Regions from separate parts of the Homo sapiens genome. Here region 1 is linked to region 2. The links come from fine-mapping of genetic effects on gene expression. A gene starts in region 2. The other region holds a variant in brackets. All regions are shown on one strand. Distances are between the middles of the regions.

What was found.
Region 1: its variant is fine-mapped to the expression of PKP1 in skeletal muscle (GTEx, PIP above 0.99). The same link has a PIP of 0.9 or more in visceral fat.

What each region holds. Positions count from the first base shown.
Region 1 is chr1:201,330,646-201,339,803 of GRCh38, reverse strand. It overlaps PKP1 (plakophilin 1), which reads right to left. Exons shown (of 14, transcript NM_001005337.3): 14 at 6,815-9,158. Among named protein-coding and RNA genes, the nearest start is that of TNNT2, 42 kb to the left of the region's middle. The variant T/A (reference allele first, on the strand shown) is at 5,219.
Region 2 is chr1:201,279,549-201,288,821 of GRCh38, reverse strand. It overlaps PKP1 (plakophilin 1), which reads right to left and starts at 5,316. Exons shown (of 14, transcript NM_001005337.3): 1 at 4,918-5,316. The coding sequence starts at 5,119. RefSeq lists an enhancer at 4,946-5,475.

The DNA of each region.
Region 1 (9,158 bases), 51 kb before region 2:
TTTCTGAAAAAATAAACTCCTAGCTATGCTATTCAAGAAAAAGTGTTTGTGTGTGTGTGAGAGAGAGAGAAGGAGAGAGAGAGAGAACACAAATTACCAACATTGGAAATAAAACAGGGCATACACTATAGATCCTGCAGACGTTACTTTTTTTTTTTTTTTTTTTTTTTTTTTGAGACGGAGTTTTGCTCTTGTTGCCCCGGCTGGGGCAGTGGAGTGCAGTGGGGCAATCTCGGCTCGCTGCAACCTCCGCCTCCCAGGTTCAAGCGATTCTCCTGCCTCAGCCTCCTCAGCAGTTGGGACTACAGGTGTGTACCACCACGCCTGGCTAATTTTTTTTTTTTTTGGTAGAGACAGGGTTTCACCATGTTGGCCAGGCTGTTCTCGAACTCCTGACCTCAGGTGATCCACCTGCCTTGGCCTCCCAAAGTGCTGGGATTACAGGTGTGAGCCACTGTGTCCAACCCAGACATTACTTTTTGTTGTTGTTGTTTTGAGACGGAGTCTCATTCTGTTGTCAGGCTGGAGTGCAGTGGTGCGATCTTGGCTCACTGCAACCTCCACCTCCTGGGTTCAAGCGATTCCCCTGCCTCACCCTCCCGAGTAGCTGGGACTACAGGCACACACCACCATGCCCGGCTAATTTTTTGTATTTAAGTAGAGATGGGGTTTCGCCGTGTTGGCCAGGGTGGTCTCAATCTCCTGACCTCGTGATCCACCCGCCTCGGTCTCCCAAATATTACATTTTTTTAAAATCTGGCAAAATTAATCTGTCATGAAAAAAGCAGAACAGTGGTGGCCTCTTAGTGGGAAGGGGGATTGTTGACTGGGAAAATGCATGAGGGGACTTTCTGAGGTGATGACATGTTCTATATTTTGATAGAACTTTGGGTTGCACAGACGTCTGCATTTGTCAAAATCTATTGAATGGTACACTTAAGATTTGTGCATTTCACTGTATCTAAATTTTACCTAAAGGAGCAGAAAGGAAAGAGGAGGAAATAAAAGAATCGTGAATCCAGTTGTCAGCTCTGCCTTCATCCTGTGTGCTCATCAGCACTATCCCACACAGCCGGGCCCTCCCTCCATCTAGGCACACTTTCTTCCCTTGGCTTCCAGATGCCACACTCTCCTGATTGGCCTTTCACGTCACTGGCTGTTCCTCCTCATTCTCTTTGGTTGGTTGTCCACCGCCTTTGAAGCTCTTCTCTATTCTATCTATCCCCATGACGTTGGTCATCTCATCCAGTCTCATGGTGTTTTGTTTTGTTTTGTTTTTTTTATTTGGAGATGGGATCTCATTATGTTGCCCAGGCTGGTCTTGAACTCCTGGGCTCAAGCAACTTCCCGCCTTGGCCTCCCAAAATGCTAGGATCAGATGTGAACCACCATGCCTGGCCTAGTCTCATCATTCAAAAGCCCTTGGGTCTTTTTTTTTCTTTTTGAGACAAGAGTTTCGCTCTTGTTGCCCAGGCTGGAGTGCAAGGGTGCAATCTCGGCTCACTGCAATCTCCGCCTTCCGGGTTCAAGCGATTATCTTGCCTCAGCCTCTCGAGTAGCTGGGATTACAGGCATGCCCCTCCACGCCCGGCTAATTTTGTATTTTTAGTAGAGACGAGGTTTCTCCATGTTGGTCAGGCTGGTCTCGAACTTCCTACCTCAGGTGATCCACCCACCTCAGCCTCTCAAAGTGCTGGGATTAGACATAAACCACTATGCCTGGCCTAGTCTCATCGTTCAAAAGCCCTTGGATCTTTAATCAAAGATATGTGGCCCCAATTAATCTAGACTCTTTTTAGGAGGTGGGAATACTTGGCCTCAATCTCTCCCCTGCGGAGTCCTGGTCACCAAAGCTAAGGCTTCAAGAAGAGCCCTACTCATCATATAGGGATGCTGGTCCTTACCAAGCCTCTGCTCTGTGCCCACAGTGCCAGGTGCTGTCAGATCCCTCCAGCAGCCTTGTGGTTGTGTGTGTGTGTAGGGCTCTATCAGTGTGTGTGTGTGTGTGTGTGTGTGTGTGTGTGTGTGTGTGTGAACTCCCCCTGTGTTTAGAGAGTCCCATGTTTCTTCATCCTGTGTGCTCATCAGCACCATCCCACACAGCTGGGCCCTCCCTCCATCTAGGCACACTTTCTTCCCTTGTCTTCCAGATGCCACACTCTCCTGATTGGCCTTTCACGTCACTGGCTGTTCCTACTCATTCTCTTTGGTTGGTTGTATACCAGACAAGAAAATGTTTTTCTTCTTTTATTTGCCAGTTCCCCTTTCCCTCCCTTCCTTCCTTGTTCACCTAAAAGAATAAATATCCAGTTCCTTCCCTGTGCCAGAGACTGCTTGGGTCCCTGCCCTCAGGGAGTTCACAGTCCAGTGCAGAAAGTGGCTGTACCAACCACCCAGGTGCCGGGTGTTACATCAGGGCTCTGGCAGGGCCTATGGAGCATCCAAAGGTGCAGTTAGTCCAGTGAGGAAGGGGACTTGCAAGAAAGAGCAGAGGGTGGTGTTGGAGAAGGGGCCTGGCCTTGCTCCTAGTGCTGCTTTGTGACCCCTGCAAGTTACTTTCCTTCTCCAGGCCTCAGTTTCTCACCTGCAAAGTGAGGGAGTCGGGCTAGACCAGCGATTTCTCCACAGCTCCTCGGAGCCTGGGGTTCTGAGGATCCCACTCCTGGGCAGAAAGGGAGTGGGCAGGTGGAGCTCTTGCCCCAAGTCTCTTCCACCCGGGCTGCCTCTGTCTCCCCATGCCAGTGTAGCTTACCCGAAGGATTCTGTGGTTGGAAAATAGGTGGATATCGTCTGCTGAGGGGTGTTCCCTGGCCATTCCACTCCGACAGTCTGTGACCCTGATGCAGGCCAGCTCCAGACAGCAGATCCCAGATGCTGGATGGTGGGTCCAGCATGCCACCAAGCCAGCCTGTTCCCTGCCAGCCTGTCTCCCAGCCCCCAGCACCTGTGGCTACAGCCCCACACTCTGCAGTCCGCCAGTGGTCCAGCCATCAAGGAGATCTGGTTGGTTGGGGCCAAGAATAAAGGCTCTGCCCCCAGGAGTACTCAAAACCAGACAGACAAGGGGACCAGGCAGGACCAGCTCTGAGCTGGCAAAAGAAAAAGAAGTAGAGAGATTGGGCAAGAAGTGACTCCTTTCAGATTCAAGAGTGGACGGTAGATGGGCTGTCTGGAAAAGGGCTTTCTCAATTCAGAGGAGGAGGTGAGTGTAGGGTATTTTTGCCTTGACCTCTCAACTTTTGGAAGAGGACAAGAATTTTTTTCCCAGACGTTTCTTGAATTAAAAAGAAAAGATGAGGAGTATATGTCTGGGGTACAGGTGCTTATTCTGTTTTCGAACACTGGTTACAGAAGGCTCAGAGGGGCACCATGGTCACAGGTTGGAGTCATTAGAGGGCAGTTTTGGAGCCAACCTAATTGTTGGCAACTGCTGTCTAGATGGCAGCTATAGAGAAGGGAGAGGAGCACCAACCTTGGCCTCAGACCTGTTTCAAAATCCGAATCCATCACCTACTATCTGTATGACCTTGAAAAAGTTGCTCCACCTCTGAACCATAGTTTCCCTATCTGTGAAATGGGAATGATCCCACCTACTTTGCAGCATCTGGATAGAGATAGAAGGTCATTCATGCATGTCAGTGCCCACCCCCACGGGGGTCACAGAATAGGTGGTCGTTCTTGTCTGTTGTCCCCCACAGCCCTGCTATCCTCCAGGAAAACTCTGGGCCCCAGAATGCAGCCAGGTGAGCCTAAAGGGATCCAGAACAACACGCATGGGTGCAGCATGGGCCCCACTGGCCCTGGAGACCTGGTTGACATTTCCTTTCAGAGAGAGGTGTAGAAAGCAGGATTTTAATGGTCTTGTGTGCAGAGGGTGACATTTATACCCCAGAGATTTAGAACCGCTTGGTAAATGCTGAAATGCTTTTTAGAAATTTTAAAAATTAATTCAGCAGCCATAAAACTTCTTAATGGGCCAACTAGAGGGCTTAGGAATGCCAGAAGCCTGAAATCCTTTCTGTATATGGGATATCTCTGCTGATCCACCATCAGTGGGGCTTGTCAGCTTTGACACGCTTCCCAGAGAGGCTGGCATGTCACTTGGTGACATTCACACCCTGCTGAGGTGTGCAGGATGACGGGTTAGGGTGGAGGATACCAGCAGGAGTCCTTAAGGTATTTTTCACTCTGTGGCCCTGGCCTCATTACCTCCATATTCTAATCAACCAAACCACCAGCCCCAGACTAGATGATCCACACTGTAGTTTCTGGCATCTGATATTCCGTCTATCAGAACTCTTCGTTTATTGGCATGTCTGCACAGCAACCACAGCTCATAAGATGTGTAATCTTATGATGCCTCGAGGTGCTGTGAGCTTCTGATTCATTAAAGATTTGGTTATGCACAGTATCGCCTTTGTGTCAGGCCTCTCTGAACAGTTTTAACACTTTGACAGCTGGGCAGCCTCATGCGAGTTGACCAGAGCAGACTTGGGCTGGGACACAGGAGGCTTGAGTCTCAGGCTTGGTTCCGCCACAAACTTGCCACGTGACTCTGCGCAAGTCACTTTCTCTCTTTGGGTCTGTTTCCTCATCTATAAATTGAAATGTAATACTCTGGGCTCTGCCTGTCTCACTAGAATGAAGTAAAGATCAAAACAGCAAACCAACACCCTAAGGCTTTGAAAGCAAAAGGAGTTAATGTGTGGCCCCCTCAAGTAAAAAAGACTATTGTTATTATTAACGACTTCTGTTCACTCTTTTCTCCAACTGTGTTGGACAACGGAACGCACTGCATTCCAAAAATGATGCACAATGAATGCTTTATCTCTCGTGGAGAGAATCGGGTTCCAGGCCAGAATACTTCCAAAGGCAACAGGAGGAAATGGCTTCAGGGCTCAGGGTAGAGAGACCTGGAGGCAGCCTGACATGGAGTCTGGGAGACTCAGCCTCCAGCACCATGAGACCTTCTCCTTTCCACAGCTTAGGCTGCCAGCTGCTCCTGGTGCCTCCCAGTTTGGTCTTGCCCATCTGTTCCTGGACCCTTTTGCTCTCACTGGACAGTCCTCTGAAGGGGCCAGAGGGCCTGCCACCCACTTGGCCAGGGACAGTTGAATTAGTACTTCTGTAGCTTTTTGGCACTCCTACACATTAAGTGCACCCACGTCCCACGTAAAATCGAACTTCTTTACTGTTAGTTGTAATTTCCCAGTAATTA[T/A]ATCACATGTGGGAATTTTTAGGAAGTGAGACAACTAATCCGCAAATTGTTTCCAGTTGTTTATAAATAATAGATGTAACAATGGCGATGATGTAATATTGCATTTTGCATTGTAACGTAATTACACATAGATTATTATATGGCAGTGGTAGGAACATGAATAGGAATGAATGAATCTTGCAAACATATTGTTGAGATAAAATAACCAAACATAAAAATGGACTTACTGTTGACTTCCTTTATATAAAGTTCAAAAATAGGCAATATTAATCTACGGTGTTAGAAGTCAGGACAGTGGTTACCCCTGGGGAGGAGGATGGTGACCTGAAGGGGTCTGAGCAGGGTTTTGGGTGCTGGTAATGTTCTGTTTCTCGGTCTGGGTGCTATTCATTTGTGAAGCTTCATTGGGCTGCATGCATTTTCAGTTGTACATGTTTCTGCATGCATGCTATATTCCAATGAAAGCTTAGCAATCTAAACATCTGTTGATTGTAAATTTGTAACTTGATCTCACATTTTGGAGTCAATACATATTTTTCAGGTCTCAAAACATTTTTTGGATGTCCGAGGCCTCGTGTATTTAACAGTCCAGGCCACAGATAGGCCATCTTCTTCTTGTCTGTGGTACAGCTCCTTCTCTCTGACCTCTCTGGACATTACTAAACTGTGGGATGGTCCAGGAGGTCAGGGCCGTGGGCTGTAGTAGAGAGGACTTGCCAGTCACCACTCTTTCAAATTGGGAAAAGCTCACATTCAGCCCTTCCCCAAGCATCCTGACCTTCCCCATCCAGGTGGCCCTGACTGGCACTGATGGCCCACGGTGGTTATGTTCACAGCACTACTTGGAATTTACTACACATGCCTCGTTTGCTTATGTTTGTCTTGTCCCTTATGAGACTTCTGAGGCTGGGGCCCATCACATCCTTTGTTTTTGTGACCCTCCAGCACCAATACAGAACCCAGGTAGAATAGGCATTCAATAAACATCAGCTCCAGCTGGGCACAGTGGCTTATGCCTGTAATCCCAGTGCTTTGAGAGGCGAAGGCAGAAGGATCACTTGAATCCAGGAGTTCGAGACCAGCCTGGGCAACATAGTGAGACCCATAGTTGGGAGCCTTAGCTGGGAGGATTGCTTGAGCCTGGGAGGTTGAGCCCTCTTTGAGCCATGATCTCATCCCTGTACTCCAGCCTGGGCAACAGAGCAAAACCCCTGTCTCAAAAAGTAAATAAATAAAACTAAATAAACACCAACTCCTTGACCTTCATCTTTGAATTTCTCTTTCCTACAGATGCCCCACCTGGATGGGTTCAGGCTTGGGGACATTTACAAGCTGTGTGACCCTGGGGGTATTTGTTCCTTCCCTAAGTCTCGCTTTACTTATTTTAAAAATCAGGACAGCAATCCTAGTGTCATGGAGCTGCGGTGAGGCTCGATGTGCTGCTGTAGAGCAGGTGTCCATGGATAGCGCTGTCCCTGTGCCCCCGGGTGGCATTCTCAGTCCTTGCCTGGTACAGGGTAAGAGGAGATCATGGAAGGAAATGAGTAGCCCCTTCATCCCTCAACAGCACCCCAAAGAATCCACTCCTCGAAAAAGTTCAAAGAAACACTAGCAATTTATTGATTTTCTCTATTTCCAAAAAAAGCAAATACATTAGTGTATCACACAAGGAAACTGGGCCTGGCCGGCACAAGGTTCCTCTACAAACATGAAGCAAGGGGAAGGTGGGCTACAGGGAAGCTCCAAGATCCCTCACAGCAGCCCCCGGCTTCCCTTCCCTGCCCACCCCAGCCGCAGTCTTGGTCCTGCCAGCCAGTTCAGCCAGATTCCAAGGTGGACATGCAGACAGCAACACTGCCTCTTGGGTCCCCAGGAGGAGTGTGGAGTCAGGGCTGCTAGTGTGGTCCCCACTGCAGAGGTGGCTGGTGGCCAATGACTGGATTTGTCATTGGCCGCTAGCACAGGAGATCCCAGGGCAGAGTCTGTGTCCTTCCTCATTTGGCCCCAAATTGGAACTCCTTATTTTGGGCATTGGCCCTGGTAGTGTGAGGCCAATGTGGACTTAAAATCCTGAGACGTGTGTCGGCTACATGAAGCCTGGCAAGCTCCTTGTTCTCTTTCTCTAGGAAAAGCCCCTCTCAGTTTTGCCCCTCTCAAAGTGACAGGCCTGGGTCAGAGGCCCGGGTGACCTGAGCTGGCCTGAGAGGGAATGGGCAGTGTCACCAAAGTCAGCCCTGCCCTAATAGTCTGCCTCAGCCCCTGAGGTCTGGAAGGCTGCCTGGTTCCCAGGGCAGGGGCTGGGCCCATGGGGCTCTTCATTCTTTGAAGGTGGGAGGAACATGAGGCGAGGGGATGCAGGAGGCCAGGGTAGTGCTAAGGGGAAGGGGCATCCGCCTGGGCTGGTAAGGTTCACATGCAGCGGTGCATTTCCCCTCCCGCCCTGACCGGACTGCACAGCCCCCAGCCGGGGGAGCCCTAAAGCCAAGGACTTGTGTCTCCACTTTCCTCCAGAAAACATAAGCCGCATGAGGACAGGGATGTGGTCTGTGTTCTTCCCTGATGTAGTCTAAGTGCTTAGGACACTGCCCCGCACAGATTGGTATGCCATACGTATTTTTTAGGAGAAGAATTCCTCTGGGTTCTGATGACAACAAAGGAGGCCCCTGAAACCTATGCCCAGGACAGTCCAGGGATCCAGGCTCCCACGTGGGTCCCTGAGAGGGAGAGGTGAGCCAGGAGTGGGCCTCCCAGTGTGAACAGAAGCAAGGGAGGGTATGACAGACCCACAGCACCACAGCACAGCTGGCTAACAGCCGGGGACACCTCTCGGAGGACAGCGTCCTCACATGTCTGGCGTCCCCCATCTCAGTTATCATACTGAGTCCACATCAGTGTTTTCCAGCCTGAATGCTGGGGCAAGAGGTGGGTTTGGACTCGGGGGTGGTGCAGAAGAGGAAGACTTGGGAGGAGGCTGAGAAGGGGTGAGGAGGAGGAGCATCTTATATTCTTCTAGAGAAGGGCACAGACCAGGAAGTTAATTCCTCTCTAACACCAGCAATGCTAGCATGGAGGTAGAAGCTGGAAGGAGGAAGGCTTGGGAGCGCTGGGCTCTGCTCTGTCTTAGTGTACACCAAGGGATGTCCACACAGGTTTTCTCATAAGGCCCTCGGGAGCCCTCCTGCTGCTGCTGGTCTGAAGTGCACAGAGTCTGGGGGCTCGACGTGGCTGATACCCCTAATAGCCCTGTTTATCACATCCCCTGTGGGTTTCACAGAGTGGAGACAAGACAGCTGGGGTCAGGGGAAGTGGGGCATGGCCCCTGGCTGAGATGTGAGCTTGCCGGTACCGGTACCCTGATATGGCACTTTCCTTTCCTAGTCTACCCAAACTCCCCCCGTCCAAGTCTCCTGGGACCCCAAACACTCCCTCAATTGACTCACAGCAGGCTTGGTGGAAACATCTTCCTGGTTAATTTCTATACCCCAACTCCATCCCACTAGAAGCCGGAATAGGTATATGCCCAGCCCCACTTGTTCCCCTCTCCACTGGGAATATGAAGACCAGCCATTCCCAGAACAGCTCTTGGGAAAGAGCTGCAATAAAATAGCTTTTCTTAAAAAAATCATTTTTTACCTTCTTTCTCCTGCAACAAGTAGATTACAAGACCTCTGAATGCAGGGCCTTTGCAGGCTGAGCCTGCTCTGATGGGCACACAGCCCAAGAGGGTGGAAGGCACCATCTTTCAGCTCCTACTCCTCTGAGCAGGCCTCATTTGGCAAAGTATGCGAGAGTGTCCTGCTGTCCTCTGGAACCCCACACCTACCCAACCTCAGTCCTTGTGGCGCTGCTGGAGGGGTGACATTACAGACACCCCAGATTCTCCCATGAGATACACCAGACCTCCCTTCCTGGAAAGCAGCCTTGTAAGTGGGGAGGCTGG
Region 2 (9,273 bases):
CTGTTCATGGCCACCACCAAGCCTGAGGACTGGGCAGAGCATGGGAGCATCCTGTGGGGACAGGATGGGCGTGAGGGGGCAGGGTGGTGGGTTAGAGTGGGCAAGGGTTGACGGGTTCAGGTGGGGTTCAGAGTCAAAGGCTCTCGCCAGCAACTACTACATTAAGTGTGCGTGTGTGTGTGTGTATGAGAGAAAGACATGGGTGTATGTCATTGTATAGGGGTGCTCCCCCATGCTGGATCTGTGTGAGTGAAGGACAGGGACTAGAACAGTGGTTCTCCAACTTGGCTACACATGAGAATCACCTGGGAGTTTCTGAAGTCCTGATGCCCGTGCCATCTTTCATACTCACTAAGTCAGAATCTCTGGGGGTGGGACTCACGCATTTGTGTTGTTTGAAATTTCCAGGTGATTCCAATATGTAGCCAAGTTTGAGAAGAGTGGATGAGAAGACTTTTTAATATGTTAGGATGTTTACGAGAGAGACACGATGAGTGGCATGCCTTAAGGGGAAGAGCTTTTTGGCAGAACAGCTGCTGGCGGTCTGGGCAAATGGTTTGCAGAGCTAGAGAGTTATAAAATCTATTTCCAAAGAGTGTTCCCATTGCAAAGCACTTTGGAGATGATCTAATCCAACCTCTGACAGCTGCAGAGACCCAAAGAGAGGCAGCGACTTGTCCAAGATCGCACACCAGGTAGATGCCAGGCTGGGCTCCTGACACAGCACAGCTGCAAGGACACACATGTACACACACATAACATAAGTGTGTGCATGTTATGTGTGTGTACGTGTGTGCATGTGTGGGTGTGTGGATTCATGTGTGGGGTGTATTGTGTATACATGCATATATGCATGTGTGACCTATGTGTGTATACATGTGTGCGCATGTGTCCAGCGTATGCCTAGAAGGAACTTCACATGAAGATATCTAACATTCGTCCATTTTATTTTGTTCAAACATTACACATCTTGTAAGGGTCACGGCCCATCGCAGAAGCGCTTCCCAGATTTCTAAACCTAGAACAATTGGCACAATGATACTTACAATGGTATGGGGTCGGGGGAGGAATTTGTACTTTTAAAAAATCTCTGTCAAGGAGCAGGATCCAGAGAAGCAGCATTTGCTGCAAAACACCCTAGAATACCCAGCATTTTTGCATGTGTTGTAACAGGCCAACGGAAATTCTGGCTAAAACTCCAACTTCAAGCCAAGGTACATTGTAAAGAAACAAGAATTGGTTCATTTGAAGTTTAATTGGTATGTTTCGCCAATGGAACAAGCTAAAGCACACATAGCCATTACCATCTGCAATCTCAGCTTCGGTCCCAAGAAAACAACCCCAGAAGTGATGCCTGTGGTCAGGAAAGGACAACTTTCTAGAAACTCTAATGAGCAGAACACTCGGGCAGAAGCTCATGCTGAGACATAGTCAAACACAAATACAAAAAGCCATCAAAGTGGGGGCTCCTGAGGCGAGCTCCTTCACTGTGCAGGCTGCGGAGTTCGTACAAGCATGCCCCCCTCTCCCCTGATGAGGGCTGAATAGACACAGGAACTACAGAAAGGGAGCAGGCACCTCCCCTGGCTCAATGTTGCCTCCAGCCCCTACCTCTGATCAGAGAGAAATAGAGGCTTAGCAATTTTAGATGGGAAACAGTACTTCTATGAAGAAGGGAGAAAGAGAATTTCAGGCCAAAGGCTGAAATAAAAAATCACAGATGGCTAAGCAGGCAGTGAGACAAAGCAGGCAATGGTGCTGGTGTTGTTAGGACTTCCCTGGAAGGAGACAGGACAGGTGAAAGGAAGCTCCTTTCACTGAGCTGGGTGTGATCTGTATTCACAGTGGCGGGGGAGCGCTTGGGTTAGGGCAAGTGAGATTCAGGTTCAGCTTTAGGAAGAGATTCCAAGTGAAGTTATAAAGATCTGGAAGGTGGATAAGTGTTTCCTTCCCCATCCTCAGGGAGGTCATTTCCCTGGCAAAGATCTTTTGCTGGGTGGTGACATCCCCCTCAGTTTCCCCTTGCCTTCCACACAGTCTGGGAAGAAAAGGAGGCCAGACACCCTGAGGCACACAGGGACAGCCTGAAAACACAGGGGAGCAATACTTCAGGGGCAGTTCAAGATGGGTAGGCAGGTTCAGAGCAACCTCCTTCTGCAAGGTCTCCAGGCCACAGAAGCCACCTTCTTCCTGCCCGGGGCCTTCATGACCAGGGCAAGGTGCTTGTCTGATCTGTGGCATTTCAGGGAGAGCATGAGTGCAGACAGGCATTTTGTGACAGGCTCCAGGGGCCCTTCCTCCAGTCCTCAGTGGCTCAATACTCCCTCAGTGACAAGAGAGAAAAGAGCACTAGTGGAGAGGAACTGAGAAGCCACTTCTATCACAGGACCAAGGATGGCTGGTCCTGACTGTCCTTCCTGGGGTACAAGGAGCAGTGGCTACTCTTCCAGGCAACCTGTGGGGTATGGTTGGCCCTTCTTAACTAGGGAAACTTTGGATGGGATTCAAGGGGCTCAAGAAGACCCTAGGTAAACTGACTCTGCTCTTGGAAGAGACTAAACAAGAACCTGAATCTGTCCAGGGGGCGAGGGAAAACGCCTGGGGCATGGTCCTTCCACAGCTACCAGCTCATTCCATTCCAGGAACCAAAGCAGGCTCCTGACAGGTAAACCAGCATAAGAAAGAGGGAGCAGAGTGAGTAGAGGTGGCCGCAGAGCAAATAGGGGACGTTTGGGTGTTTCTGATGGAGAAGACAAGGAAATCTGATGAAAACTAAGCCAGATAAACCAGAAACACCAGCTCCAAGTGACCAAACCGCCTCTTCCAGCAAGGATGCCTCTGCAGCCTCCTTTAGGAACCTCCGCAGAGTCTGAGGGTAGAGGGGACACGCCCACAGGGCTAGACCTTGGAGTTTCTGGAGAGGTAGCCATCAGCATCAACCCTCCCCCAGTGAAGCCCCCTGGGGGACCTTGGGAGGAAAAACAAAGAGGGAACAAAGGAGACCTTATCAGATAGAAGTTCCCCACAAAGACCAAGCCCAGAAAGTGCACTTCTTGCTGACAGACACTCAGCCAATATCCCGATAGGTAGGAGGAAAAAGGGGTCCTTGGGGCACCCAGGGCCGGTTTGAGTTTTCTGGAGTTGTGAGCCAAGAGCTCAGGCTGGGATGGAGTGGGAGTGGGAAGGGGACAGCCAAGTCTTGTGCAGAGAGGAGAGTAGGTTGAGCTGTGCTCTGGGCTGTAGCCAGAAATGGGGGCACTTTGTTATTCCAAACCTAATTCTAAAGAGGCTAGGAGGCACCTACCAAGGCACCAAATAAAAGGGAAGGAGGCAAGTGCTCTGGAGGTGGCATGATCTTGAGTGGAAATGTGACGAGAGGAGCCTGGAGCCCACACAAAGGCAAAGAGCACACAGAGAAGCAAAGGCCTTTAGGTCTGGGGCCCAGGAAGTCCTCTGCCGGCCATTTTCCTTCCCTCGGCTCTACAAGGGGCCACTCAGGAATGGGGGCTAGGGAGTAGGTGGGGGGACAGAAGCCACAGGTAGAAGGAAGTGTGAGGTGTGTGTGTGTGTGTGTGTGTGTGTGTGTGTGTGTGTGTGTGTGGTGGAAGGGCCAGGGTCGGTTTCTTTTGTCTCCTTCCACCTTATTACCCCCTGCCCCTCACTCTCTCCTAAGGCCTGTCTTAATACATAAGTCTTGGTTGACCTGTACTGTTTGGTAATGGGTAAAGTCTTATTAGCATTTTACTAAACTTAGCTAAATAAAATAAGTAAATAAATAAACAAGTGGAATCTTTGCTCACTTGTGTGTAATTCTTACCAGGCATCCTTTGTATCAAAGTGTTTACTTGGTCTATAAGCTCTCCCCTGTCAGGTACTGCCCCTTCCTCCTTGAGTTTCCTGGGTGCTGCCCCTTTCTCCCAGGTTCCCCCAGTCATGGGATCTGGCCTCTCAGAGGCTGGAGGAGGGGGTGCCAGGCCCGGGATCCAGCTTGGAAAAGTGCCCGTGAGGGTTCAGCTGGAGGTCTCCCTGGGGCCCGGGGGGATTTCCAACCTGCCATTCCGTACTCTCCCCATGAGACACTTGTTTCTACCTAAGCTGGGTGGGGTAAGAAGAATCCAGTGGGAAAGAGGATTTCTGCATTGGCTATTCGGGAAAGAAAGCATCCCTGACCCCCTTCCCTGTCGTCAAGGGACCCACTGGCCCTGGGGCGGCCTTCCAACTAGGCTAGCCTCTTTCAGGAGGCTCTCGATAAAGTGCCCTGGAGTTCCAGGCCCTCGTCCCTGCTCCCTGTGCCACTTTCCCGTCCCGCAGCGCCTCTCCTGAGCTGCACTCCTGTCTCAGCGACTCCCTCACCCCGCTCGCGGATACTCATGCGCGGCCCCACAGGGACTGGGGTTCCCCTTGGCCTGGACGCTGGGCATCGGCCTCCAGCTGAAGGCCAGGAGATCAAGCCCAGGAAGGGTGAAGGGTGGCCCACAACCGTTTGCGAGCGCGGGGACCATGGGCCCCAGGACAGCCGGGGCCAGACAGGATGCAGGGCAGATCCCTAGAGCAGCATCCGAAAGAGAAAGCCGTCCAGACCCAGGGCTCAGGGACAGGAGAACCGCTCGCGGGGGATCCTCAACCTCCTGGCACGCTGGGACATGCTCCTGGCTGTGTCCCGGTGAATCACCCATCCTTGCCCACTAGCGCGCCATCGAGCTCGCGGGGCCGTCGAGCCAGCCTCGGGTCGCGTTTACACCAGCTCAGAACCGGCTGGGAGCTCGGCTGCTCGCACTAGGTGCGTAGACCCTGCCTGGGGCCGGCAGCCCCTCGCCTCCCCTCATCCCCGGGGATGCGTGCGTCTCTTGGTCCCCGCCACTGGGCCAGGGTGCTCTGGAAAGGGGCGCACGGACCACGCGGGGGCCGAGCCTTTACCTCGATTGGAGTGGCTCAGGGTGGACGACTGGGAAGACTTGGACTTCTGCCGCTTGACGGTCATCATCACCTGCTCCTGCACGCGCTGCCTGCCAGACGTGCCTGTTTTCATCTTTTGGTCCGACGGCAAAGCCAACGTGGAGTTGTCCTGGTCCTGGAAGCATTCGTACGCCAAGGCGGTCTTGAGCGGCGAGTGGTTCATGGTGGCGGGAGGCGGGTGGCGCGCGGCCGGGGCCTAGGAGAGCAGAGAGGCGAGGCGAGGTGCGGTGCAGCGGGCGGGCAGGAGCGTGCTCTTCTCGCTCTCAGCGGCTCCCTACGGCCATAGAGTGCGTGGTCCGCGTGAGGGCTCCCTGCAGCTGCTCCTGGCGCTTCCACCCTGGTTCGTCCCTCTCTGGCACTGGCGAGGCCCGCCCTCCGTCAGACAGGATATACCACCCCTGCCCTGCACCACCCACTCCACCGGGCCGCGCGCTGCTGCTGCTCAGACGCGGAGCTGCAGGGCACTGCTGCTGCGGAGCCAGCGCTCTTGGGGGCAGGGCTGCGAGTCCCCTGTGTGGGACGCTGGGCGCCTTCCTGCTCGCTCTTTTTTTTCTCTCCCTTCCCTCTCCCCATGAGCAAGAAACGTCGCAAGCCTTGAGGCCCCAGGGAGACGCCCCTCTGTCCTGTTCTGCCGGCTCACTGAGAAAGCATGTGCTCAGCTCAGGAACCGAGGGAGACCTCTCTCTAGGAAAGAAAGGAGTCTTTCTTGACCAGGCTGCCCAGGAGAGCCAGGCGTCCATCTCCCTCTGTACTGAGGTCATAGCAGAGACCAACCCCGGCGGTGGAGGCTCCCGGGCTGATGGCAGAACCATAGCTCTTGCTCCAAAGGAGTGCTCCATCTTATGGGGGTAACCCAGTCTACTCTAAAGGAGCTTCCTCTGAAGAAAGTGGGGTAGGGGCAGTAAGGCCACATCAAGGAGCAGACTTGGGATATCAGACCACACAGTGGGTATGCCTTGGTAAAACCGGTGGTTATTTGTTGTTCATGAGTATACCCCGGTAAAACACCACGTGAACAGCGGATCCTCTCTGAAACTCCACTATAACCTCTAAAACAATGCCTGGCACACATAATATTAGGCGCTTAATAAAAAATATTTTAAATAGGTGAATACGTGAATGCTAGTTAATTTAAGGTAAATTAAATCTAACTCGGATCCTAACCAGATCCTCACTGAAAAATTGAAAAGCTGCTTTACCCTGAAATTTCACTCTGGACTTATTATTCTGGGACCACTGTGTGCATTCCCCTATATACACTCACCCCTGGGGACACATGTGCAGTGAAGCTTTATTCATGTAGCATCCTCTCCAGGCGTGGAGGGAGCCCACATCAGTGAATTTGGTGTGTAACAGGAGCTGAGTGTTTTTTTTTTTTTTTAAGTATTTACTTTGATGGAAATCTTTCTAAAAGGTATCGCATTCTGTTTGCCTCCTAAAGCAAACAACACTGAACATATTTGCTGTACTTCTTGATGCCCTGGGTTTCTCATTCTGGACATCCATTACTGAACTGTGTAGTCGTGCTGTCCGGTCAGTTTCTTAGTTTTGGGGCCTCCACCAGTGTGTGACACTATCACAGCCGTCACTCTTGCTGTCATTTGAGGCTGCCGCTCACAGCTCACATATTTTACTTTTAGTTTGCTCTTCTAATCTACAGAGGAAAGGACAATCAGAAATCTATTCTTTTTGGGAATTTTATGTCGAGGAAGGATCAAGAAGACTGAATGACTGTCTCAGGGACCATGTACATGAAGGTCACTCACGCAACTCCTGAGATGTGGGTGTTACATGCGGGGAGCCCCAGCTTTCCCAAGGAAGGTATTCCTAGTAGCAATTTGCAGAGCAGATTATTGTAAAGCAGATTATAGTTTCCAATAGAAACAGTTTTATTATTGAGGGCGCTGTTCCTAAGAACTTAACCTCAAGTAAACCAGAGATGTGATAAAAAATATGTCATAGATGTGTACAAAATACCTGTAAACCTCTATTATCACTTCATATTGTAAGATTCTGCCTCTAGCCATAGACCGCCAGGACTGGACAGAGCCTTGGACTTCATCCAGCCAAGCACTGCATTTCACTGATTAGGAGAGGAGGTAGCTTGCTTGCAATGCCCCAGTTAATATGTGGCAAAGCCTGCATCCTAACCAGGCCTTGTGACTCCTGGCACAGTGCTCATTCCACCACATCATCCAGCTTCCCTTATAAAAGTCCTATAAAATGGACATTAAAGTACAGTGCACACCGATTATATAAGGGCCCCAATGTACTGTAAAGTATACACAGCAGCATATAAAAATACAATTCTATTGTATCACACATTTGGCCTATCTAAAACCTAATATGCTAGCCATAATAAATGTTAATTACATCTTTAAATAACGATAATTTTCCTATTCTAGGATATAGAAGGGCCCTGAAGGAGGGGATTAGAGTAGCTCATCTTCCTATAAAAGGCAAGTCCGTGGAAGCAGAACTGATTATCTTTAAAATTGTTTCCAGGTATGAAGTTCAGTTTTTCTAGCTACTTCTCTACTATGTTAATATTGACATTATTTTGACATATTGATAGCAATAGCATTTACTATGCTCCTCCAAACACCATGCCTACCAACCAGGCATTGTTCTGAGCCCTGTACACGAACCACATCATTTAAATCCTTACAATGACCCTATGAGGTGGGCACCATCACCCTTCTTTTTCAGATGAGGTAACTGAAGTTCCATGAGGCCACCCAGCTGGCAACAGGCAGACAAGGCAACTGCAATCCAGAGCTGGACACTCAGTGGCAGTGCCAGGCTGCCGCCTCGAGATTTCTCTGTGACAAGCAGATCCTTCTCTGGATAGGTATTTTAACAGCATCCATTCCCATCACAGGGCACGAAAGTCAGGCCAGCTGGGTTCCTGATCTAGTTGTGTCACTAACTAGCTTCATGTTAGACAAGTGCCTTCCTCCGTCCCTTGCACCAATCTACAAAGAGAGCGGGTAAACTTCGTGGCTCCTAAACTCCACTCTAGCCCCAACATTCTATAATTCTGTCGATTGTGGGGATTTGTAGGGCAGGACATCTTGAATCAGGCCCTTCTGACAGAGGAGGAGAGGAAAGAGAAGTCAGGTTACACATTCTGGGCCACGGTGAGGGAGATATACTCAGGCTGGGAGGATTGGTTTGGGGCTCAGGTATATGGTTTTGAGCCAGCAGGCCAATGCTATTTCCATAATCTCTCTCTCTCTTCTGCCTGCCTGAGCCCCACCCTATGTGGGGCCTGTCTCAGAAATCAACCAGCAAGGAGGCTAACACTCCTAAAGTGAAGAAAAGATGTCAAGGAGGCACAGTCACATGATCCTGGCTCTGAAATGGCATGCTTTCAGGTGACTGTCAGAACATATATTTAGATGTTAAAATTCTAATGGATATGGGTTAATTTTGGCTTGGAAGGTGTTGGGGGTGATCAGGGGGAAGCATCCTGAAAGAAGTTAATTTTGACTTGATTCTGAAATAAGATGAGTATATTTTCATCCTCAAAGGAATGAGTATGAACGGGCTTCTAATTCTCTTTGCTGCCTCCTTAGAGCATTAAGTGTGACCCAGATTTCCCTTTCAACATTCTGGCTCCCAGACTTCACATCCTGTCATCTCTATGTTCATTAAAAAGTGAAATATGAGTTCATTTACTCAACAAGTATTGACTGAGCATCTGCTATGTGACAGACCTTGTCCCAGGTACTAAGGATACAATGGTGAGGAAGACAAAGTTCCTGCTCTTACAGAATTTACACTCTGTCACTCTCACTCTGTGCAGTGGTGTGTCTTGACTCACTGTAACCTCTGCCTCCCGGGTTCAAGCAATTCTCCTGCCTCAGCCTCCTGAGTAGCTGGGATTACAGGTGCGCACCACCATGCCAGGCTGATTTTTGTATTTTCAGTAGAGACAGGCTTTCACCATGTTGGTCAGGCTGTTCTCAAACTCTTGAACTCAAGTGATCCACCCACCTCGGCCTCCCAGAGTGATGGAATTACAGGCATGAGCCACTGTGCCTGGCCTAGAGCTTATTTTCTACAGGAGAGAAGGAGAAGGCTGGGCCAGGAGTGGGTGGGGGCTATCCCAAGGAAGGCTGAGAGGAGGTCTCTGGGGCTCCTGCTGCTTCTAAGAGTGTCTGGGCTGAATCTTCTCCCTTCTCAGTTTCCAGCCCCCCAGGTGAGGGGACCACCTCTAGCTGAGCCCCTCACTGACGCAAACACCGCAGGAGCGTGGAAGAGGTAGGTTTTCTTCCTGGATCCCTGGGCTTGCTGGGTGGCCCCATCTTATTC